Regions from separate parts of the Homo sapiens genome. Here all the other regions are linked to region 1. Evidence: fine-mapped expression QTL. A gene starts in region 1. Each other region holds a variant in brackets. All regions are shown on one strand. Distances are from middle to middle. Region 1 holds the start of WDFY2 (WD repeat and FYVE domain containing 2). Region 2 overlaps WDFY2 (WD repeat and FYVE domain containing 2). Region 3 overlaps WDFY2 (WD repeat and FYVE domain containing 2).

Region 1 (8,183 bases):
TGGGAAATGAGGATGTGGAAATTCTAAGTCCAAACAAACTGAGTAGTTTTCTGAGAAGAAGAATGAAGAAATGGAGGAGAATGTGCAGCTAGAAGAGTTTTGTGGTTTATTTATTTATTTTTTTTTTTAGACCAGGGGGTCTCACTCTGTTGCCCAGGCTGAGTGCAATGGCACGATCTTGGCTCACTGCAACCTCTGACTCCAGGGTTCAAGCAATCTTCCCACCTCAGCCTCCTGAGTAGCTGGGTCCACAGGTGCATGCCACCACAGCCCACTAATTTTTGTATTTTTTGAAAAGACTGAGTTTCTTCATGTTGCCAAGCTGGTCTCGAACACCTGGGCTCAAGTGATCCACCTGCTTCAGCCTCCCAATGTACTGGGATTACAGGCGTGAGTTACTACGCCTGTCTTGTGTTTACTTTATTTAAAAAATGGGAGACAGAGTAGTGCACGTTTATACTCCACTGGGAAAGATCCAATAGAGAAGGAAAAAGTGGCGCAACATAGAGAGTGAATAACTGCAGGAATCTTCAATGAGGAAAGAGAGGTTTACTCATGCTGGCCTTGAATGGGAGCAGTCTTTTTCCATTGTTACAGAAGAAAGGCAGAGAGTATGGAAGAATACGGATACAGATGCAGGCAGGTTGATAGATCTGATGACATGAAGATGAGACAGCTTCTGATTGCGTCTACTTTCTTTTTTTTTTTTTTTTCTGAGACGAGTCTTGCTCTGTCACCCAGGCTGGAGTGCAGTGGTGCGATCTCAGTTCACTGCAACCTCTGCCTCCTGGGTTCAAGCGATTCTCCTGCCTCAGCCTCCCAAGTAGCTGGGATTACAGGCATGCGCAACCAAGCCCAGCAAATTTTTGTATTTTTAGTAGAAATGGGGTTTCACCACGTTGGCCAGGCTGGTCTCGAACTCCTAACCTCAAGTGATACGCCCGCCTCGGCCTTCCAAAGTGCTGGGATTACAGGCCTGAGTCACCGCGCCTGGCCAACTTTCTAATTAAAGAGAATTACCAGAGACCTACAGTTGTGAGTCTAGAGTGAGACCAATCAGAATGTTTGTGCAATTTTCATCTGCCAAGTTCAAAGCAGATATGAAGTAAGTGAAAAGTTGGATTGGTCAGGATTGGAGTTTTGCCTGCCAAGAATGAGAGAGAGGCAAGGATGCCATGGGTGTTTGCAAGAGACTGTTAGGATAATGGACAATGGGAGTTAAGTAGTGAAAGGAGGGAAGTGAGAACATGAAGGGGATAATGGATAATCATAATATAATGGCAAACCCTACATGGTGGTTACTGGGTGGCAGGCACTGGTTTTAGCTCATTACATATAATAACATGTAATCTTATGACTACATTGGACAGTGAAAAGTGTGATGGTCAGTGAATCAGAAGTCTCCTAGGAAGCCAAATAATCAATGGGGTGGGAATATTTGAATAAATGAACCTGGAGGCAAGAGAGACAGACAGACTTGAGTGTATGTAACCGCTGTCATCTGTTATAACTGTGTGACTGCAAGAAAGGCAATTTGCCTCTCTGACTTTCTATGGCATAAGCCAATAATAACCTATGCCTTTCTTTTTTTAGCCAGTTGTGTTTTTGTTACCTGCAACCAAGGGTTCTGACAATTATAATACAATTGTAATTACACAATTACGAGGATAGAGTGCTGGAGTATGTGGCTCACAGTGAATTTCTACATTCACTAGCTGTCTTCCTTTTCCCCTTCCAACGATGACCTCCAAGAGCAGTAGATGTCTCTTGTATCATTCCAGGAGCTTGAACTTGTGCTGGTCACAGCAGAGACGTGCTCTGAGGACACAGCAGTTCTCCATCACATGAAGGTTAAAACTCAAGCTCCTAAACAAGGAGCTTGTCCACACCTGTCCATATTTCCAGCCCAATATCTTGACCTTCCTCCCTCCTCAAACTTTGCCCTCCAGCTACTAGAGGTTCCCAGAAGAGATGAGGCAATTCTCTCAACTTCTCACCTCTTGCACATGCTGTTTCCTCTGTCTGGATTTACTAGTTCCAAACTCCAGATGAGCTCTTTCTGCTCCAGAAAACTTTCCCTGATTTAACAGCCAGACACAGGTCAGGGTTTCCAGTTCTCACTGCACTTCACAGCACTTTCATTGTAGCAGCTGTCACATTGATAGTAATTGATAGTTTGAGTACCCATCCCACCTGAGGATGATGTGGCAGGTGCCCAGGGTGCATCTCTTCCAACCAAGAACAAGGGGCATCAGGCCATGGTCCAAACTCAGCCCCTGTAATGTCCTCACCTTCACCTCTCTCTTCATAAGCCTTTCACTTCCCTAACAAGCATGCAAGGACTGCCCCCACTTTACTCACCCCTCTCCCGAATACTCTTTGAGCTCATGTAACCAGACTGCACCTGCTCACCCTTCAAGACTCTGTCTAGCCTCTACCTCCTCTATGCAGCTTTTCCTGCCCAACCCTCTCCACTGCAGGTCCTGTTAGGCATTTCTCCTGTGTTACCTCAGCTTCCTGAGTCCCCTATTATAACTCTTGCCATCATCACTTCCCTGTCATGACCCGTTCTTTTATCTGTCTCTAGTGATCTGTGAGATTCTTGAGAATTGAGAGGTTTGCATTCAAATCTGTGTTCCCCCTGCCTATCACTAGTAGTTATTAAATATTTCTTGAATGATTGACAAGACAGAGATTCTGGCTCTTTGGAATTGAGGGTCAGACTCAGGGTTATGGTAATGCTATTCAGGTTCTAATTCCCATAAAGCCTGGGGTGGGAGCAGCCAGTGCTACCTCCTTTGTAACTTTAAGGGGATGGGGGAAGTTATCTGGGTCATAACTGTAATTGCCACCAGAACCACCTGATGTAGGTGTTATGCCCTATTTAAATAGATGTGGAACCTGAGACTCAGAGAAGTGAAATGCCTGCAGTAGGTCCTACAGCTGGAAAATACCTCAATCCTATTTCAAGGTGCTTACAGAATTTCTGCAAAATGGGAGGTGGTAAAGAGTTGCCTTGCGTGCTTTGAGACAAGTTCTTTGCACCTGTTCTCTTATGTCTCTAGTGATCTGTGAGATCCTTGGCTACCAAACACCTACCTTAGAAATACATTTCCACAAGGCCTGTCCCTTTCTTTTCCCAGCTTTGGCATTATTTCTCTCACTTTCAGAGCCCTGCAACTCAATCACACCACCTAGACCATTACTACTCTTCGGCTAACTTAATTCTGGGATTGTTCAGTGGAGGTTATCACATAACGACTATTGATGAAAAGAATTAAACTTTGTAAAATATTTTAAGAGATTTATTCTGAGCCAAATATGAGTGACCGTGGCCCGTGACATAGCCCTTAGGAGGTCCTGAGAACATGTGCCCAAGGTGGTCGGGGTACAGCTGAGTTTTATATATCTTAAGAAGGCATGAGACATCAATCAAATACATTTAAGAAATACATTGGTTTGGTTCAGAAAAGTGGGACCACTTAAAGCGGGGGCTTCAAGGCTATAGGTAAATTTAAACGTTTTTTGGTTGACAATTGGTTGAGTTTATCTGAAGACCTGGGATCAACGGAAAGGAATGTTCAGGTTAAGGTAAAGGATTGTGGAGACCAGGTTTTATTGTGCAGAGGAATCTTTTAGATAGCAGCCTTTAGAGACAGCAGGTTGTAAAATGTTCCTTACCAGACCTAAAACGGTGCCTGGCTCTTAGTTGGTTATCTCCTGGGTGTAGGAAGGAAGGAAGGAAAACAAAGGGGAAAGGGGATATAGAATGTGGATTTTTCCCACAAGAGACTTTGCAGGGCAATTTTAAGGCATGGCAAGGAAATATAATTTGGGGTAAAACATTTTGATTTTCTTCCTTGTTACGCCAGAGTCAGACTGGAAAGTAAGTCATGACCTACATGGTCAAAACCCATCTGATGAGAATTTATGGTTTTTGTAGGCCATGACTCCCCAGACCCCTTAGATAGGAATTTGGGCAAGATAAAAAAGCAGAGCTTAGTCTTCACGATCAACCCCACATGCCAGGCCTTCTGGTAGGCACCTAACATTCAGTCAGTAACTACAGTAACTCTGTCCGTTGTGTCTGGAGCAAGCTAAAAAGGCTGGATTGCTGGGGAAATGGAAAGAAGCCAGCACTAGGGGCCTGGGTTCAAGTCTGGAGGGAAGGAGGGGTTGTTTAGCCCTAACTTTGCACTAAAGTAACCTTGGCTGTGTAATTTAGCCATCTAAGAAAACGAGGGGATAGACACCCCATATGTTCTCTGAGCTCCCTTGAAGATGTCTGTATGAAAGATTCTCTCCTTTTCATGTCCCTTCCGTGCCACTATTCCGAGCATCAGTCTGACCCTAGGAGTGGTGACGTCCTACTCAGCTGGGGGCTGCCCCTCAGTTCCCATAGAGGCAAGTCTGGGTCCTGACTTGGCCAATGGCCCTGGAGGCCGCTGAGCTCCTCAGGCCCATAGCGCAGAAAGTGGGCGATAGGTCATTCCAGGACAAGGGGGCGGAGGCTCCAAGAAACTACGACTCCCAGGAGGCCACTGGGTTCCCTCCGGCAGCCTGGGCCTGGTGCATGTTGGGAGCAGTAAGCGGCCTCCCGCCGCGCTTCATTGTTAAGACCGCTAGGCCAGGTAGCCCGCGCGCATGCCAAGTCACGTCCCAACGAGTTGGGCGGCTTTCCTTCCTGCAGGCCTCTTCTCTTTCCGGTCTTGCTGAGGCGCTCCTTTCCCCGCCCCACCTCCGCCCTCTTTTCAGGGAATTTCGAAGGGGCGTGGCGTCTGGCAAGCGCGTCCCCAGGGGTGTGTATACGCGCGTTCACGGGAGGTTAAAGAGGGAGGAGCCTAACCCTTGGGTGTGTAAGGCAGAGAGAAGACCGCGAGGAACGGAAAGCGCATGCGTCCTAGTGGTGCTGCAGCGCCCGGGGAGTCGCGGAGGGGAGGGGTGAAAATGGGCTTGCGGGACTGACGCACGCGCATTGGGATACCAGATCCCCGCCTCCTGCTCCAGGTTTCCCCTCCTCCTTCACCACCCTCCCGGAAGTGGAGCCGCCCTCGCGCCCACCAGCGGCTACCCCCTGCGGCAGGCCCCGCCCACACAGGCTCCGCCCCCCGGCGCTCCGCCCCCTCCTCTTGTAGTGGCGCCGGCTTGCATCCCAGGTCGTGGCGGTTTTGGTGCCTGAAGCAGGGAGCGCGGAGTCGTTCCCGAGAGAGGCGGCCAGGCTATGCTCGCCGGTTTCCGGCGTTCCGCTCCGGCCAGCCAGAGTCTCTGTCTCAACCTGTGTCCGTGCTCCAGCAGTCTCCTCAGCCCGGCCCCGCGGCGCGGTTGGCGGCGGCGCCCCAGGCGCGCCCCCTCCTCCGATGGCGGCGGAGATCCAGCCCAAGCCTCTGACCCGCAAGCCGATCCTGCTGCAGCGGATGGAGGGGTCCCAGGAGGTGGTGAATATGGCCGTGATCGTGCCCAAAGAGGAGGGCGTCATCAGCGTCTCCGAGGACAGGTATGGACTACTGCCATTCGGCCGCGAGGAGGGGCGGGACGGGCCGACGGCCCTCGAGCCCGCGTCAGGGGCTGTGCCTTCACGTCGGCGCGAGTGTAGACTTGCTCCCCCAAGTTTTATTGTAATGCGCATCCTGGTGGTGCCGGTGTTCAGCTGCGCGCCGCCTCCGCTGTGTGGCTCCGGGAAGCGGAGCCGGGACGGCGGCGAGCGCTCCGGCTTCACCCCGGGCTGGGTAGTGCCTGCGGGAGCCGGGTGGCCCTCGGGCTAACGGTGCGCTGGAGGGACTTTGGTCCATCCCTGAGGACAGGAGGGAAAGAGGGGAGGAGCCGCCCGGCTTTGCAGGTGTGTGCTTGGGGAACGATGCCCTGAGCCGCCTCTGCAAGATAACCAAGGGGTTTGGGGTACTCTCGTACAGCTCCCAGGGTTTCAAACGGAGAAAGCAAATGCCACTCCTTCTTCCCAGACATTCCTACTGAATCCAGATAACCCAGACATCTTAGGCTGAATTCAGTGAATATTCTAAGTTGTACCAAGAGTAAGTTTAGGCTTCTGCGTGGTGCCTTCTTTCCTTTCCCCTCCTTATCTCTTGGAGCTCGAGGAGAAGCGCGTAGAACTTGTAACGGATCACTGCTGCAAATAGCTCTTGAGTTCCTTCCCTTTGCCTGTTTCCTTTATTTTTGCTTAATTTTGCTTAATATGCAGAAGTGGAACTAGTTGTTCTGCCTTCAAATACTCTCTCTGTTTTGCGTTTTCGCTTTAACTGAATTTCCTTGAATATGCAGGAATAAAGCTGATGAAGCTAATTTCTAGAGTAATGTTGCTTGAAGATAGTATTATGATAATTTATCTGAAATTGTTTCTTTGGTAAAATCTATATAAGCATTCTTACAAAAGAACACTGTAGAGGTACATAACACGGGGATTTTACAGTAAGTAGGTTTTCTTAATATAAGTTCAAATCATGCAGAGGTAAAGTATCCTTTCTTGGTGACTCAAAATTGAGAGGCTGAGCAACAAAGTGCTCATTGCTGTCTTTATAGTCATTTCCGCACTTAGCATAGTGTGTGGCCTCAACAATTGAGCTCGATAGGTTTGTTCATGTCTTAGGTTCTTCAGTATAACTAGGATGAGTATATTAATGACATGTTCTTGTCTACATCATGCTCAATACAAATGGCGCCTGATTAATTTCCTGTGCAGATCCAATGGAAAACATTGTAAACATACACCAGTGGCAAGCATTCTGCAATGAACAGAAGAAATTCATGGCTGAAATGGAGTACATGGATGTAGGACCCTTTTGAAATTCACAGAGAAGCCTTATGAGAAAGTTTGATTTTTTCCATAAAGGCAAAATTTTATTAAAAAGACTGCTTCTGGACCTAGAAATTCTTTGGCACAGTATTGTTTTTATGGGATATATTCCATAAAATATATTGAAGGAATATATTGGTAGATGTCACTTTCCCAGTCTGTAACTACTGGAGATGGAACTGATCAATTTCTAACTGCTGTGGAAAATTCATAAGCAAATTCATGGAATCAAGAAAAGGAGAAGGGTAGTTAAACCTAAGCTGCTTTAATATTTTATTTATTTTTTTAAGACTAGTTAAGTACGGTAGTGAGAAGGGGAAGAGAGTAGAACAAGGAGTTCAATCTGTAACTGACTGTGAACAATTGAGATAATAAAACTACCTTCAGACCATCCTAAGCTCCTTTAATATTAAGGTGTTATTATAGTATTGAAACTTCTGATTCCCATTTCACCACATTTACCTTGAAGGAAACAGCTTTACTGGGGTATATTTTCAAGTGTTTGGAGACGCTGAAGTAGTGTATATTAATGAAACTGAAGAATAAATTTCATTTGATTATAGGATGAAAGAAATGCAATGTTCAGCTATGTCTTAGCCTAATTTTCACTTTCCTAGTGTACAATGTAAATAATAGAAATTATTTTGTCATGGAGTTACTGTTAAATAAGGTTCACCCATAAGTCTGGAATTATTATTAATATACTTTTTTTCAAGTTGACAAGTCTGTGCTTCTTTGGGTCATATACTCAAACATGAACATAACTTTGTTATTTAGAGCTCAGTTTTGGTTATGGTTTTCATTAAAATAATTGATCTATATTCTTGCTTTCCAAAATTCAATGTTAATGTCACTTGGTACAATGCTAAATATATGAAAATGTAATATTGATTTTCATCACAACCTACAAAGCCATTACCATTCACTGCTTTAGCTAGAAACTAGTAATCTTCATTCCTGAACTCTGAGGTTAAAGCCGCAAGTAATGTTCCATACCTGAATGGCAGTGTTCCATAAATTCTTAATGAAACCCTGGTTTATCTTTTTGACCTTTGACTTCTTCATTGCCTTTATGTGTGCCTTTGAAAACACTTAACATTTTCCATTTTAAACGGTGTTATACAGTATATACTTCATGTCCATTTTATTTTCTCTTCTGTGAGTTCCCTATGGAGCTTTGTGTGTCTTATTCATTGTATCATCATTAGGGCCTAACATGGTACCTGGCATGCAATACGTCCTCAATACACGTTTGTTGTATCAGTGACTGATCTGTTTTTTTGCTGTTCCTGAAAGCACAGCATCTTAACTACTGTAGACTTTTAGTTGATATTTGTTGAGTGAATTATATGATGACCTATGAAAGGCTTATGTG
Region 2 (8,183 bases), 49 kb after region 1:
GTTTTTATGGGCTTCAGAGGGGAGGAAGTGCATGCTGATTGGTTCGTGGGCAGCCATGGGCAGGCTCAGAAAAAGCACCATAAGTTCTCGTTTTGGGCCCCAGACTCTAGCTGGAACTGGCAGACCTCAGGCCATCCCTGTCTTGAAGGTGGGGTTTCACTGGGGACCCACCCCTTTCTGCCCAGGAACCTGTCTGCGTCCTGGCATCAACATGCCATCCACGGCACCCAGGCTGTTCGTGCTGAGAGGCACCTGCAGTCCTGCGCTGAGCCGCCCCTCAGGCCCCACTGGGCTCCCTCCCTGAGCTCCTCAGTGCCCAAAGTTTCAGAGGGGGCCGAGGTGGTGTTGGGGGATGCTGGTGTGCAGTGCTGCCCCATGTGCATGCACACCCGACCATGTCACGGCAGTGCCTGGGCTTTGCTTCAACTTTGTTCTGAAATCAGAGCGGACGCCAGGAGGTGGGAGAGGCCAGGGCGTGGGAGCAGGTCTTTTTGAGCCTGTGGGGACAGGAGGGCTTCCCAGGCCCCTGAGAGTCCAGGGATGCTCGTGTCTGGAGCTTCAGCTGGATGGCTGCAGCTACACCCAGGAGCACCGGTTTCCCATCCCACCAACTCGGTAGGGGGCAGGGTTTCCGCCTGTTCCTTGCTCCCACTGGCCTCACAGAGCGAGTATCCCTAGCGGCACCCCCCCTGCTGCAGCCGGCCTCTTCCGAGTGGTCCCTCCAGATGGCCACGGCTGCCATCGGAAGAAGAGAGGCAGGATGAGCTAATAGAGCCCTTGATGCATCACAGATGCCAGTTAGTTGCTTTACTCTGCAAGTCATGTTTAACTGAATGGAATTTTCTAACAGGTGGAATTGCAGTGTCTAAAAAGGGCCTTAGAAACCCATTGACCAGCATTTAAAAAATAGTGTCATAACTTTAAGATTGAGCAGCAGACTAAATTCTTCCAGGGTTTTGACCTCTTCTGAAGACATATTTGTATGCTCTGTGGGACTTTTCTGTTTCTGTGATCCATTTTGATGGTTTTAAACTATACATTGACAGATTCCTTGTGTGTGAAATGAAGAGTTTGAATAGATTATTTCTTAGGTCCCCTTCAACTTTGAAGTTGAAATTCTGAGACCCAGAGTTTTAGTTTTAAGCTATGGAGAAGACAGTCTTGGAAAATGCCTATGAAACTAAGGGATAAGTGATACTCCTCACATGGGAAGTCTCTCAAGCTGTTCTCTCTCTTCCAGTGAGGAAGGCTAACAGAGGAAGACCATGAAGCACACCAAGTGGATAGTGTGGGTTTCTCCCTAGCCTGCTTTGGTCTCTAAACGTTCATGTAGATAGATTACAGTAGATTTAGGAATGCAGATGGTTACTGGTATTAATTAGATACCTAAAAGAATTTTAAGTCTTTGGCAATTGATATAACCATGTGTTTGTTTTAGTATTATGTTTATGAAGCATGGTATATGAAAAGAGGATGTTATTTGGGTTGATTTTAAATTTCTCAATTTAATATGACTTTGGAAGAGGTTCCTCACTACAAAATGGTCTATTTACCTATTTTTTAGTTTTCTCTATTTATTTATAAGGGTTGTATTCAGTAATATAAATGAAATAAAGGTGTGTGAAATACTCTGTGAACTGTTCTGTACAAGCATTGCACTCTACATAGAGGATAATCATTAATAACATCATGAGCTTCCTTTTTATACAAAACTACTGTGTGTGTCATGGAGAATTTAAAAACCTCATAAACAAATCAAGTTGAAATAATTCTAATTGGAAAACAAGGAGAAAGTAGCTATGTCACTGTGGCCAAGGGGTGATTGAGGCTTTTTGTTTTCTTCAGTAACGGTTCTCTTTAGTTCTTTGATTTTTTTTTCTTTTCTTTCTTTCTTTTCTTTTTTTTTTTTTTTGGTTTATAGATGTATTACATCTGAAAAATATTGAAAGTACAAAAACAGTATGTGAAGCAGGAGGTATGAAACCACTCATGATCCCACAATCTTGGAGCAACCACTAATGTTAGCAAACATTAATATGTTTCCTAACTACTTCTTCTTTGATCTTAGTATAGTTAAAATCATTTTATATACACAGTCTTATAAACCTTATGTTCACTTAACATAATATCTCCAGCACATTAACAGTGATAGAGCAGAAATATGGAGCCTTAGCCATTAAAGACATTGAGTTACTGAATCAACCTGGAACTACCTTCTAGTCATTTTGTTTTAAGTCAGACCCTGTTTTCTTTAAATCACTGAGGTTAGGTATTGTTATTTGCAGCCCAAATCATCTTAAACTGAGAAAGCTGTCCTAAATTTCTTATTTATTCCCATGTACGATTTCTTACTTTTATAGCATGTGAATGTAGAGTAGATTTCTGTAAGTGGAATTTCTGAGTCACAGACTATATACTTTGTTTTTGTTTTCTGATGATTTGTTTTATTTTCCTGTCAGCTCATCATAAGACTTTAAAAAATTATTATTTTAGTGAATTTTTTTGGTGTTTTAAACTGGTAGAGTTCCCTTTCTTTCTTTTTTTTTTTTTATGTTTGGGTCACCACAGTGCCCGCAACATTCTTTCTTTCTTTATGCATACTTTTTGAACAACTATACGTGTGGCACTTTTGCACACATTGCCTCATTTAATAACCCAGTCAGATGGGTGGTATTTTGTTCTTTCACCCAGTTGATGAGGGGTTTCTCTTTTATAGGGGTATTTAACCCATTAGCGTTTACTGAATGTTTGGTCTTACCCTTGGCTTTTTGTGTTATGTTTTCAAGTTATTATGCTGATTGTTTAGCTTTCACTGAAATTTTTTTTTTCAAGTTTTTCTTTTTTTTTTTTAGTTTCTCTTTTTTGAGACAGAGTTTTTTGCTCTTGTCACCCAGGCTGGAGTGCAGTGGCGCTATCTCGGGTCACTGCAACCCCTGCCTCCTGGATTTAAGCGATTCTCCTGCCTCAGCCTCCCAAGTAGCTGGGATTACAGGTGTGTGCCACCACGCCCAGCTAATTTTCTGTATTTTTAGTACAGACGGGGTTTCACCATGTTGGCCAGGCTAGTCTCGAACTCCTGACCTCAGGTGATCCACCCATCTCGGCCTCCCAAAGTACTGGGATTACAGGCGTGAGCCACCATGCCCAGCAAGCTTTTCTGTTTTTTAAGGAAAGAAAACAAGCTGGGCATGGTGGCTCACGCCTGTAATCCCAGCACTTTGGGAGGCCGAGGCGGGAGGATCACTTGAGCCCAGGAGTTCAAGACCAGCCTGGGCAAGATGGAGAAATCCGTCTCTACAAAAAATGTAAAAATCAGCTGGGTGTGGTGGCTTGTGCCTGTAGTCTCAGCTACTTGAGAGACTGAGGTGGGAGGATCACTTGAGATCAGGAATTTCAGTCAGCAGTGAGCCATGATGGTGTCATCGCACTGCAGCCTGGGAGATGAAGCAAGATCCTGTCTCTAAAAAAAAAAAAAAAAAATTTAAAAAGAAGGAAAACAATTCTCTGTGACTTGGAAGTTATATGTCCAATTTTTGTTCTTCTTGTGGGTAATTAAAATTTGAACTTACTTGTTTATCATTAGAACAGTATCTATGGAGTTCTCCTAAGCCATGTGATCACTTCAGCACATTTTCTTTTCTTCTCCTTACCGTCTAAATTTTGTTGAAATAATGAGAAACATTTGTTCATTTTTTTTACATTATGCTCCTTCAAGCATGCTTTCAACTTACAATGTTGAAAGCATAATTTGCATTATGATTTCAACATTGACACGCATTATTTAGACGAGGATCTTGCCATGTTGCCCAGGCTGGTTTTGAACTGTGGGGCTCAAGCA[G/A]TCCTCCCATCTCAGCCTCCCAAAGTGCTGGGATTACAGGCGTGAGCCACTGTGGCCAGCCTAGACCTCTCTAGCTTTGTTAGCTTTATTGCTCACTGCTGTTTCTCTTATACTTCTATTTATCTTTTACTTTCTTGAGTTTTTTATTCTATTTTTTCAGTTGATTATATATCCTCCCTTCCTTAAGAATATTTCTACAGATAAGGTATGTGGAAAGTATATTTTTGATTCCCCTGTTTATTAATGTATTTCTTCTATGTTATAGTAATGATAATTATAGTATTGATAATTCATCTAAATTTAGAATTTGTGTGTCATAGACTTATCTTTTCAGAGTCCTATAAATCTTACTCCATTGTCTTTTAACACTTAGTATGGTAGATGAGAAACCCAGTGTTCATCTCATTCATGTTCCTTTTTATTTTTTTAATCTTGGTGGAGGAGCGGATGTCTATTGGACTCTTTTTCTCTCTGACATTCCAAAGCTCTCCTAGGATGAGCATGGTTCTTTTGTGATTAATTTTGCCAAGCTCTGAATGAATAATTATATTCTAAAAAACTCATTTTGAGTTCTGTTTTTTTTCCCATTATTTATTACTTTTTCTTTACTTAAATATTATTTCTTCTGTTTTCTCTTTCTGAAATACCTATTAGACACAGATTTGATCTTCTACCATTCAGGTGCTATATTTTTCAGTCATAATTTCCCATTTTTCCTTGTTTTCTTGTGCTTTCTGGGAGATTTCGTGGAGCAGGTCTTTCAGGTTCCCGTTTGGTTTTATGCAGGAGCCAGTCTGCATTTCAGTGCATCTCTTCTTTAGGCTACCCATTTTGCTTTTTACTTTCATTTGCTATGTCCTATTGCTCCTTTTTCATCTCTCTTCATAATAACTTTTGTAATCAATGATACAGATAAAAAAGTTTAAATCTCACTGAGAAAATTTTAAAATGTGCAATCTTAAAAATTTTTAAATGTACAAACTTGTCTTGTTTCTAGCAGTTACCCTAATTATTCAAACATTTTCACTTCACCTAAAATACTGGGTCTTTCCCCTGTCTAGTTTGCTAGCTTCTCTGTTCACTCATCTGCCAAGTAGGTCTAATTTGTTCATTATTGGTAACTGAAATATGCTTTGTCAGAGGTTGTGTAGGTCATTATTCAGTTCTTTTCATTCCAGGCAAAAATAGGGAAAAACGTTAGATTTACTGTGATTTTTTTTATCTGCAGCTTAGAGTTCTAATAGTTTGTGTGGGGCAGGGTTGAAGCTGTAGGCAGTGGGAGACAACTGCAGGGCAGACTTTGTCTTTGTTCAGGAACAGTGTTCCTTTTGTGTCTGCCTTGGCAGCTTCTGGCCCGCTGGGGTAGTTTCCCTTCCCCCTGAATAGCTGCCTGGCCTAGGCATCCAGGCAGAAACTCCAACCAGCATGGCTGCTGCTCCAGCACTGGCCTGGCCTCCAGCCTCTGCTCCAACCCTGGAGCTGTCAGTAGGCTCTGAAGTGGGGATCCTGGTGGACTTGGCCACCCCATGTGTAGTGGAGTGATTAAGAGTTTAAACTTGAGTCTGATCGCCTTTGTGTTCCAATCTTGGTTGTGCTACTTGAGAACTGTATAACATTGGTCATCTTGTTCAACTTCTGAGCCCCAGTTTACTCGTGTGTATAATAATATTGAAATTTGTTAACGGCTTAAGGCACTTAGTAGGGTATCTGGATCTAAATAATTGATGAATGGCAGCAGTTTTGTTGTGGGTGTTCTGGGAACTGGCTGCTAATTGGCCTCTCCGCTCACTCTGCTGTTTGCTAAATTATTCCTGTTAGCTCTTCTCAAGGGGTCACTTTTGTGGATGGGTCACTTATGAAGTAGCCAGTCAGTGGTGGAGACTTTTTTTCTCCTGAATTAGTTGGATCATTTTAGCAAGAAGTGATGAGGGGAGGGAGTCACATGCATCATCTTGATTCTAGACCATCACAGGTAATTCTTTAAACCACCTGAAGTTTTTAGAACCAAATAAATAAATAGGGCAGCACCTTTTATTGTGTAATTCATTTGTCCCCCTATGATTTTTAATAAATTTTTAATATGCTAGTTAGTATATATACTTTGGTCTGTTTCTGAGCTTTCAGTTCTTTCCCATTGGTCATTCTGTTTAATCTGGTGCAGTGCCACACTATTTTAGTCTTTCTTCAGTGACAGGAGAGAATCGTTGTTAAGAGCATGATGTTTGGAGACAGGTTGCCTGGGTTTGAATTCTGGCTCCTTTGATTAATTTCTAAGAGGTTAAATTAATTACTTACCTAAATTACTTAACTTCTTTTTGCCTCAGTTCATCAGCTCCAAAATGGACATGAGGATAATCCCAATTTAGAGGACCATTGTAAAGATTAAATAATTCTCAGGTCATTAAAACTGAGCTTGGCTTTATGAGAGTTATTTGAATTATTACAGGGCTTTAACAACCAAGAACTGATAGTGTAGTCTTGCAAAGCCCTAGAAGTGTTTTTTTTTTTTCAGAAGTAGTGGATGAAAATCTTACTCTGTGAGTTCTGTGAGGGCCAGGAACCCATTTTTACCCTCTTTGTATTCCTAGTACTAGACCTGATTCATGATAAATACTCAATATATATTTACCAAACCTAAGGAAAAGTAGTACTTTAGCCTTTTAATACACAAAGATTTAAAAATATATCATGAATCCAGGTAAGAGTCAATTAAGCTTTTGTAAATTTATAATACTTGTTAGCACTAAGATTGGAAAAGGCAGCCAGGTGCAATGGCTCACGCCTGTAATCCCAGCACCTTGGGAGGCCAGGGTAGGTGGATCACCTGAGGTCAGGAGTTTGAGACCAGCCTGACCAACATGGCAAAACCCCGTCTCTACTAAAAAATGCAAAAATTAGCCAGGTGTGGTGGTGCATGTCTATAAGATTGGAAAAGGCTGTTTTTTTTGTTTTGTTTTTTTTTTCCCCATATATTCAGTACCAGGAAAGAACTATAGTAGAGCAAGGAGGACTTTTTTGTGAAGACATTTGTTTATTGATCAAAACAATAGGGTGCATCATGGTTGGGTTAAGTGGATTTATCCATAGGTCAGAGTTGGAGTAGAGGGAAGGGAAGAATGCAGAGTCCCCCCATAAGGAAGCCCTAAACATTTATTTACTTATTTTTTAATTTTTTAGTTTTATTTTTTTGAGATGGAGTCTCTCTCTGTTGCCCAGGCTGGAGTGCAGTGGCACCACCTTGGCTCACTGCAACCTCTGCCTCCCAGGTTCAAGCAATTCTCCTGCCTCAGCCTCCCGAGTAGCTGGGATTACAGGTGCCTGCCACCACGCCTGGCTAATTTTTTTTTTGTATTTTTAGTAGAGACAGGGTTTCACCATGTTGGCGAGGCTGGTCTTGAGCTCCCGACCTTCAGTGATCTGCCCATCTCGGCCTCCCAAAGTCCTGGGATTACAGCGTGAGCTACTGCACCCCCGGCAGGAAGTCCTAAACCTTTTAAATGGCAAGAGTTGAGAGAGAAATTATGACGTGATCATCATTTTTCATGCCAGGCTGTGAAGAACAGCAGCTTTGCGTAATTGAGAGAATTTCACAGAACAGCATGTATTTTGTCTCTGTACCTTGAGGCATAAATTAGACGTGATCAAATCCAGATCTAGCTAATGCACTGTGCAAGGTGCTCTAAATGCCTATAAGCCATTTTTTTCGGCTTCCTGTCTTCTGTTTTCTAAATAGTGAAAACTTTTCACCAAACTTCCTGCATTTCACCTTTTGTCCTCCATGTCTGATTTCTTCCTCTCTCTGAGCATTCAGACAGCTTCAGAAATAGTCTCATGGTAAGGCTTAGGCTTTCGAGTCAAACTCCCGGGAGGAACTCCTGGTTCTTCTTCCCCATGGCTTGGGAACTACAGACAGGTGAGGGTCTCCACACTACAGTTTCTCACTTCTAAAGGGGAAGTGAAAACAGGATCTCTCTTACTCGTAGTACTTTTGTAAGGATTAAATGATACAAAGCAAATAAAACACAATGTGTCTGAAAATAATGAATGCTCAATATGTTATTAGTCCTTCTGCTACTATTATTTAATTTTTTCAACTAATGGAAGGAAAACTGGCAGCTTTACTGTAACCATACCCTCATTCCCCATTTCTCTTCTGGTGTCCCTATATCTGGGCAGTACCAAAGTGTAATTCCCTTCTCAGATATGGAAGCACCTACATACACTTTAACCTGGCTTGACTCTCTTAATGGAAGGAATGCCCACCGGAAGTTTCATCATCTTTTTTTTCAACATGCTGGGTGCACAATTTTGTCTTCCCTTACATATATCAGGAACCCCAACAATC
Region 3 (8,183 bases), 140 kb after region 1:
CCAAGGCAACAAGTGACAGACTAAATCAGATTGAATTCAGCCTTTATTCCTCTTCTTTCAGGCGTCTTAGTGGAGAAGTAAATATGCAATGAAAATAACCAAAATTCAAGTAGAAAAGTAAAGGAAGACAAAGAGACTGGTTCATAAATTGAATTATCAATTTATGAATAACTTCAAATTCTTTGATTGTTTTGACCGAAGATCTGAAGCTTCAAATATAAATGACCTGTAATAGGAACAACAAGAATGACAATAATAAGAAGGAGAGAAAAGGAAAAGGGAAAAGAAAAAAATCTCAGATTTGCAGGCCCTGAAAATGTCTTAGATTTTCAGTCTTTTACACATTACTTTGTTCACTGTCAAAACAATAATGTGAAGTAAAAACAAAAGACCTAATTCTCTGTTTTCACAGTGTAGAAACCAAGGCTCAGGGAGTAGGTGACTTGCTCAAGGTCACGTAACTGTTAGCCGGCAGAACCAGCATTAGAATTGGGGGATTGTAATTTTTCAGCCAGCCCTCTGCACAACTGGGTACAGCAGAATGGGGTTATTTCCCAAAGACCCCATGGCAGGTAGATGATAGTAAATAGAAATGTGTTCCTTCCCCACTTCACTTGTTAGTCTTTAAATTTGTGAATACTTTATCCAGCGTCATTTGTCAGTGTCTTGTTATTTGACCATGTTTTGATAATATTTTTCCTGTTTTCACAAAAATAATTCAAATATTCTATTTTAGGATTTTGTTCATGTCAGAGATATTTCCACAATGTCACCCTGTGTAGTGGAATGTTTCCCACCTAATGTAATCTCTTAGATTTATTTCTGTTCAGGTAAAGAGTTCTGAAAAGCTGTTAAGATTATGTCAATTTCTTCCTATCATACTTAATGCCAGTCATTCACATCCACTGTTGATTCTTCTATCCCTTTTTGCTTTCTCTCAATTTTTGCTGGAGTATTTTAAAGCAAATTCTAGACCTTATATCATTTTATCCTTATATACTTCATTGAAAATATATGGGTTACTTTTTCAGTAATCACAATGCTATTGTTACATCTAAAAATTAACAATCACTCTTTGATCTCCTTGATATTGTTGAATTTCAGATTTCACTGCTTATTTTGAAAATGGCTTTTGTGCAGTGGATTTGTTTGAAATTCGATCTAGACAAGATCCACACATTGCATGTGGTTGTCACGTCTTCTAAATCTTTCTTCATCCAGAGCAGTGCCCCCTTCACTTTTTTTTAATGCCACCGCCTTGTTGAAGGTACTGAATCAGTTCTCCTGCACACAGTCCCATATTCTAAATTGATGTCATTTAACTTGCTCCTTTACCTACTCTCCTCACATATTTTCAGTAAACTGAAAAACTGCCCCTATAATCTTGATTTCATTCAGATTCAGCCTTTTAGTGAGAGCATTTGGTTCTCACCAAGTGTGCTTCATAGAGCTTCCCATTATAAGGCACATGGCATTGGATTGTCGCCCTTTCAGTTATGCTGAGATTGATTGGCAGTTCGGGTGGTGACAGCCAGATCCCTGCAGCGCCGTCCTCCATACCAGCCTTTTAATAGTTTCATCCGTTGCTGAGCTTTGCCTGAACACTTTTTCGTTAAGGTTGCTAAATGGTGATTTTCTAATCCTATCATATTTTTCCCATGTATTTGTTGGAATCCTAAAGGATAACTTCCCCTGCCTCATTAGCTAGGGCTATTTGGTTACCCTGAAATACAATTATTATAGGAAAAGCAAGATAAATTCTTATATCTGTCTTTTTAGTTCCTAATTTTCAGAGTACAGATTTGGTGCCCTGCTCACCTTTAATAGGAATCTTTTTTTTTTCTTTTTGAGCACTATTATGAAATCTTAGGTTGGTTGGTTGTTTTTAAATAATAATATGTTCAGTATATATCAATAAACTGCCATCTTTTTATTTTATGTTCAAATTATCCTATTTTTGGCCAGTAATAGCTCCATTAAATGGGCTCCAATGTCTTTTTTAACTTTTTTTTTTTTTTTTTTTTTTTGAGATGGCGTTTCACTCTTGCCATCCAGGCTGGAGTGCAATGGCACTATCTCAGCTCACTGCAACCTCTGCCTCCTGGATTCAAGCGATTCTCCTGCCTCAGCCTCCCGGGTAGCTGAAATTACAGGCACTGACCACCGCGCCCAGCTAATTTTTTGTATTTTTAGTAGAGACAGGGTTTCACTATGTTGGCCAGGCTGGTCTCGAACTCCTGACCTCGTGATCCGACCGCCTCGGCCTCCCAGAGTGCTGGGATTACAGGCGTGAGCCATCGCACCCAGCCCAATTTTTATTTTTTAAAGATTATTTTTTAGAGCAATTTTAGGTGCACAGCAAAATTGAGCAGAAAGTATAGAGATTGCCTGTGCACCTCATGACCTCCACATGCATGGCCTCCCCATTACCAGCATCCCCCGCCAGAGTGGTATGCTTGTTAACAATCAGTGAACCTACATTGGCACGTCACTATCACCTGAAGTCCATAGTTTAGGGTTCACTCTTGGTGTTGTACATTCTATGGATTTGGACAAGTATATAAAGACATGTATCTGCCATTGTAGCATCATATGGAATAGTTTCACTGCTCTAAATAGCCTCTGTGCTCTACCAGTTCATCCCTTATCACTGTGTCTGAAATAAGCCCACTTAGCCTTCAGTAGCTTCCTTGCCTTCTGACTCAACATGTCTCAAGTTCATCTTGTACTTTTCCTGTCCCAATCCTGGAATCAGCCATTTTTTTAGTGAGGAACAATATTCAGAGATAGCTAAGAAGTATATATAAATGTGTGTGTATTTTTTAAAAGAGAATAAATCATAAGTTCATATAATATTTCTTATTCAAATTTAACATTATGGGATTTTTACTTTTTGGTTTTTGCACTTGATTCTTTTATCTTCGGCTGAAAATCTTGGTTGTTAAAACATTGGCATAGTTCCTCATTTGGTTTATCCTACGGTTTATTTAAATGGTTCCAAAATAATGAGCAATACTAAATAACAATAAGACTACTGAATGAGATTTTAGATTTCTTTGCAACTCTCTTTGTCCTTAGAATATATTCTACCAGTGATGGGGGCGAGACTTCCCCCTTGTCATAGTTCCCATTTGGAATCCTGTAATATTTTTACATATTAAAAATACATAAAATTTTTGCTCAGGCATGGTGGCTCACACCTGTAATCCCAGCATTTTGGGAGGCCAAGGTGGAAGGATCACTTGAGCCTAGGAGTTTGAGACCAGCCTGGGCAACAAAGTGAGACATTGAAACATTGAAAATGTTGTGTTTTAAAGGCACTCGAAATTGTTCTAATTATGTGATTATGTCACCAATTTGATAGGTTCATTCATTTTACTTTGTTTTCAATTTGGGGGATTTTTTGAGATATATATGTGTATGTATATACATATGTGTGTGTGTGTGTATATATCTATATATACACAATTTTTTTTTTTTTTTTAAGACAGGGTCTCACTGTGTCACCCAGGCTGGAGTGCAGCGGCTTGAACATGGCTCACTGCAGCTTCAATTTCCTGGACTCAAGCAATCCTCCTGTGTCAGCCTCCCATGTAGCTGGAACCACAGGCATGTGCCACCATGCTCAACTAATTATTTTAGTTTTTGTAGAGATGAG[G/A]TCTCACTTTGTTGCCCAGGCTCAAGTGATCCTCCCTCCTTGGCCTCCCAAAGTGCTGGGATTACAGGCATGAGCCACTGTGCCTGGCCACAAATTTTTGTACCTTTTAATATGTAAAGATTTTACAAAATTCTAAAATAGGAACTATGACAAGGGAGAAGTCTCACTGCCATCACTGTCCCCTGACCTTGCCACTTTTGTTAGATCTTAATCCCTCTAGTGCTTCCCTTTCTAAATATGAGTGCATACATGCACATGCACACACATACATACACATTTGTATTTCTCTCTGTTTCTTACACAAAGGTAGTATAGCTTATAAACTCTCATATGCGTTGGCTGCCCCCTCCACACACACTTGATAATATATCCTGGTGTCTGTGTATAAAGATCTCCATTTTTACCCCAGCTGCATAATATTCTATTGTGTGGATGTAGCATAGTTAATTCAGTAAGTCCCTTATTGATAGACGTTTGGGTTATTTTCAAACTTTAGCTATTAAAATAACATGGAGTGACTAGCCTTGGGCATGTGTCATTCTGTATTTTTGCCTGTGTGTCTCTGGGTGGATCTTTAGAAATAGGGTTGCTAGGCTTTGTCAACCAGAGAAGCTTGTTAGAGACTCCATGCCTAGGGCTTTTACTGGTCACGTAGGCAGATCTACCTGGGACATTCCAAAATTCCAGATTCCCAGAAGGAAAGCAGGTATTCAGTGTAAGCCACATTATTTGAACAGTTAAGGCACAGTGAGCCACTCTTATCAGTTAATGGTGGGAACCTTCCCAAAATCCAAATTCCCAGACACTATGCCAACTTCGTAAGCCGACTTTCAGAGGATCACAGTCAGAGCTGCTGTGTTAACTCTTTTTTCACAGCACCATTTTGATTTCTTCTTGAACTATCTATTAATAGTTCCATTCAAATTTTGCCCATTTTTCTATTAGGTTTGGGATCCTTTTCTTCTTGATTGCTCTTTTTATATTAGAGATTTGGGCCCTTTGTGACATAAATTGCAAATATTTTTTTCCAGTTTATCTTTTGGCTTTGCTCATAATATTTGTTGTGTTTTTGAGTCATAGCTTTTCCCACTCCAAGGTTACAAAGAAACTTTCCTATCTAAAGCTTATGTTTTCATTTTCTACATTTAGATCCCTAATTCATTTGGAATCTGTCCCAGTATACATTGTGAAATACAGATTCTATTTTCTTTTTCCAAATGGCTATCCAGTTTGTGCCAACATCATTTTTTTAAATTCATCTTTTCCTTATTCATTTGAAAAGCTACCTTCATCAGACATTTACTAAATTTCATTGTGCTTTTGGGTTTATTTCTCGACTTTGTATTCTGTTCTGTTAGTCTATTTATGCACCAATACTACACTTTTAATTAAAGAAACTTTATAACATTTTTTAATATCTGGTAGGGCTAACCTCCCTATCACATACCATATTGTTCTTATTTTCAGAGTATTCTTGGCTCTTTTTGCTTATTTATTTTTCCATATGAACACTTCTGGCTATAGAAAACAACATGTGTTGATATTTTTTAAATATATAGATTTATTTTATTAATTTAGGAGCAAGAAGTGACATCTTTAAGTTTTAAGTCTTACTGTCCAATAATACAGTATGTCCTTCATTTAGTTAAGTTCACTTTTGTGTCTTTCAGCACTGTCTTCACATTTTCCTCAGATGGGATTTGCGTATTTCTTGTTACATTTATGCCCTGTTTTTTCATTGTAAATTCCCTCATTTAATTTTGAGAAACAATCCTTAATGCTTTCATGACAGATTTGATGTTGAAACCCGGCATGTGTTTATCGGTGACCACTCAGGCCAAGTAACAATCCTCAAACTGGAGCAAGAAAACTGCACCCTGGTCACAACATTCAGAGGACACACAGGTAGGATTAACAGTAAAATCGTCATGTGCTGATAGCACAGTGAGATATCGCCTGCTGCATCTCCTGATGTTCAGATATGTTTTGAAAGTGGCAAAGTACAATCCATGCTTGTGCAAAGATACACATGATATGCTTAACTCATTTCAAAATGGTTCAGTAAGATATAACATCAAACGTTTTTCTGTATAATCCAAACAAAAGAGAAACCAATCTATTTTGAAAATGTTGATAATTTGGTTCTCTGTCATACTGCACCAGAGAAAGCCAGTGTTGGCATACATTAATGAGGCATTGTTTGAGACCATGTGGCCTCGGACGGCTCAAACCCCAGAAGGCCAAAAAGACAGCTGCCTCGGTCTGACCTTGCCCTTCCTGGAGTTAGAAGATGGTGTACAAGAAAGATTCCCACTTCCAAGTCACATGAAAAGACAGATATACTCTTCATGAGTAGCTAGACTTTGTGAAAAAGGTCAAGTTCCTCTCCAACTTTCCTTCCTTCATATCCTTTTCAGGTTAAAACCTAAGGTCCCCTTTATGTTTTTGCTTTGCTCAGGGTCACTTAAGCAAGGTAATATAAAATATTCATGCTTAGCCTTTGAAAGACTTGATAGATGATAATGATTAATTTTTTACTAGTAGTTTTAACGTGTACTATTGACTCTAGAACTTATCGACCCTAGAAAATGAGTCATCGCCAGTTTTCATGGTTCTTAAAGGGCTTTTCCGTTTTCTACCAGCTACAAACCCATGATTTTGTGTAAAACAGGAGAATACTGAGTTTAGATGTCATATAAGAAAAAAAGTAGGGGAAAGAGGATGTAAAATTGGATAGTACCTGGTTCATAAGGGGCTTCCTAAAGGGAAAAAATGGAATGCTAGAATAAGAAACATATAGTAAGGAAAAAATTGAATCCAAGGAAGAAGATTCATAAAAGATCATCTTAATTATTTATGCCTTTGGGAGGAAGAACACATGGAAATATCCCCTATGGATAGGACCCTGGTCTTCCCTGACTGAATTTCTTTTTTAGCCGCTTACACCCTCACCTACACTTTGGCCAAGACTGGGCCTGGGGTTCTGGGGGGGACCCAGAACTGTCCCACCTCAGAAGTCTTAAACTTCTGTGCGTCACTGCAGACTTCAGCCTCCTCATCCTCCAATTCCCTACACCTTTCTTCATTCCACTTACTGTTTCCCCTTGTGGCGCATTCTAGCCCGCGGTCCTTCCATTTTCCCAGCGTCTCTTCCCCTGCATCACCTTTCCTCCCAGTGGTGCATCGCTTCACCCACGGCTTCTCAGCGTTCTCAGTTCTGTGAATGTAAATGTTCTGCCTTCTTGGCAAGCCTGTCTGATTCAGACTAACTCTCCACCTTTTCTTCTTGTGCAGCCAGCTGCTGGGTCTACAGTAGTCACGCTGCCTTGAGGCTTAGACCATCATTACCATTGCACACTCACGATTTCCTGTGCAGACTCATGAAGTTGCCTAATAATCCCTCTCCCTGTCCTCAGTTCACTCCTTCTCCCAGGCCCCTAAACAGAGACCTTCACCATCCTTCCCAAGCCCCCATCGCCATCTCATTCCTTGCCTCTTCCTTCAAAAGCTATCAAATAGAAGCTTTAAAAAAAAAAAAAAAACCACATATTTCTTGCCCACTGTATATCCCCCTCACCCCAACAAACAAACTTTTTCTCTCCCCACTTCTCCTCTTCTCAGTGCAGGAGAGCTGCCTTCCTCCAGCCCATTCTTCTCTTCTCAGTGCAGGAGAGCAGTCTTCCTCCAGCCCATTCTTCTCTTCTCAGTGCAGGAGAGCTGCTTTCCTCTGGCCCCAGTCTATTTGCAGGGTCTCCACGCCAAAATGGATTGCCTTGATCTCTCTTTTGACTAACTCATTCTTCTCAATTTATTAATATGCTTATGTTTTTTGCCTCTGGTAGAAAAACAAAGCAACACCCTCTCAATCCCATGTCTTATAGCAAGTTCCTTCTTATTCTCTTAATAGCAATGCTTCTTTTTAAAAAATTGTGGTAAAATGTATAAAACATAAAGTTTACCATTTTAACCATTTTTAAATGTGCTGTTCAATGACATTAACTACATTCACACTGTTGTGCAGTCATCACCATCCATCACAGAACCTTTTCCATCTTGTGAAACTGAAACTCTGTTCCCTTGGACATTAACTCCCCATCCTCCCCCTCGGCCCCCCAGTCCCTGGAAACTGTTACTCTGCTTTCTGTTTCTATGAATTTGACTAGTCTAGGTGACTCATAGGAGTGGAATCATGCAGTATTTGTCCTTTTGTGACTGGCTTATTTCACTCAGCATAATGCCCTCAAGGTTCATCCAAGTTGTAGCAAACAATCGTGTTTCTTAAAAGAATATAATTTTCCCAGCTGCTTCATATTTTTCACTTCCAATTTGCCTTCCAGCTCCCTGCAATCTGGTTTGTCGTTATTACGCCACTGAAACTGCTGTCCCCGAGGTGACCAGTGGCCTGCTGGGACACGTTGTAAACCTTGTCGTACTTAACTTTTCAGCAGCATTTTACATTGTGGCCATTCCTTCTGGCTGTAACGGCCTTCCTTTGGCTTTTCTTCTATGACGCTGCTGGCTTTCT

The links. PIP is the estimated chance that this variant, and not a neighbour inherited with it, causes the effect.
Region 2: its variant is fine-mapped to the expression of WDFY2 in whole blood (INTERVAL, PIP above 0.99).
Region 3: its variant is fine-mapped to the expression of WDFY2 in whole blood (TOPMed, PIP 0.98).

What each region holds. Positions count from the first base shown.
Region 1 is chr13:51,579,331-51,587,513 of GRCh38, forward strand. WDFY2 (WD repeat and FYVE domain containing 2) reads left to right here and starts at 5,132. Exons shown (of 12, transcript NM_052950.4): 1 at 5,132-5,494. The coding sequence starts at 5,358. It also overlaps the pseudogene RNY1P6. RefSeq lists enhancers at 4,384-4,904, 4,563-4,842 and a silencer at 4,983-5,352.
Region 2 is chr13:51,627,930-51,636,112 of GRCh38, forward strand. The region is part of intron 1 of WDFY2 (WD repeat and FYVE domain containing 2); the gene reads left to right. Among named protein-coding and RNA genes, the nearest start is that of WDFY2, 48 kb to the left of the region's middle. RefSeq lists enhancers at 1-366, 367-985. The variant G/A (reference allele first, on the strand shown) is at 3,839.
Region 3 is chr13:51,722,228-51,730,410 of GRCh38, forward strand. WDFY2 (WD repeat and FYVE domain containing 2) reads left to right here. Exons shown (of 12, transcript NM_052950.4): 6 at 5,451-5,563. It overlaps LOC124903177 (a long non-coding RNA gene), which reads right to left. Exons shown (of 2, transcript XR_007063807.1): 2 at 26-226. Among named protein-coding and RNA genes, the nearest start is that of DHRS12, 78 kb to the right of the region's middle. The variant G/A (reference allele first, on the strand shown) is at 3,659.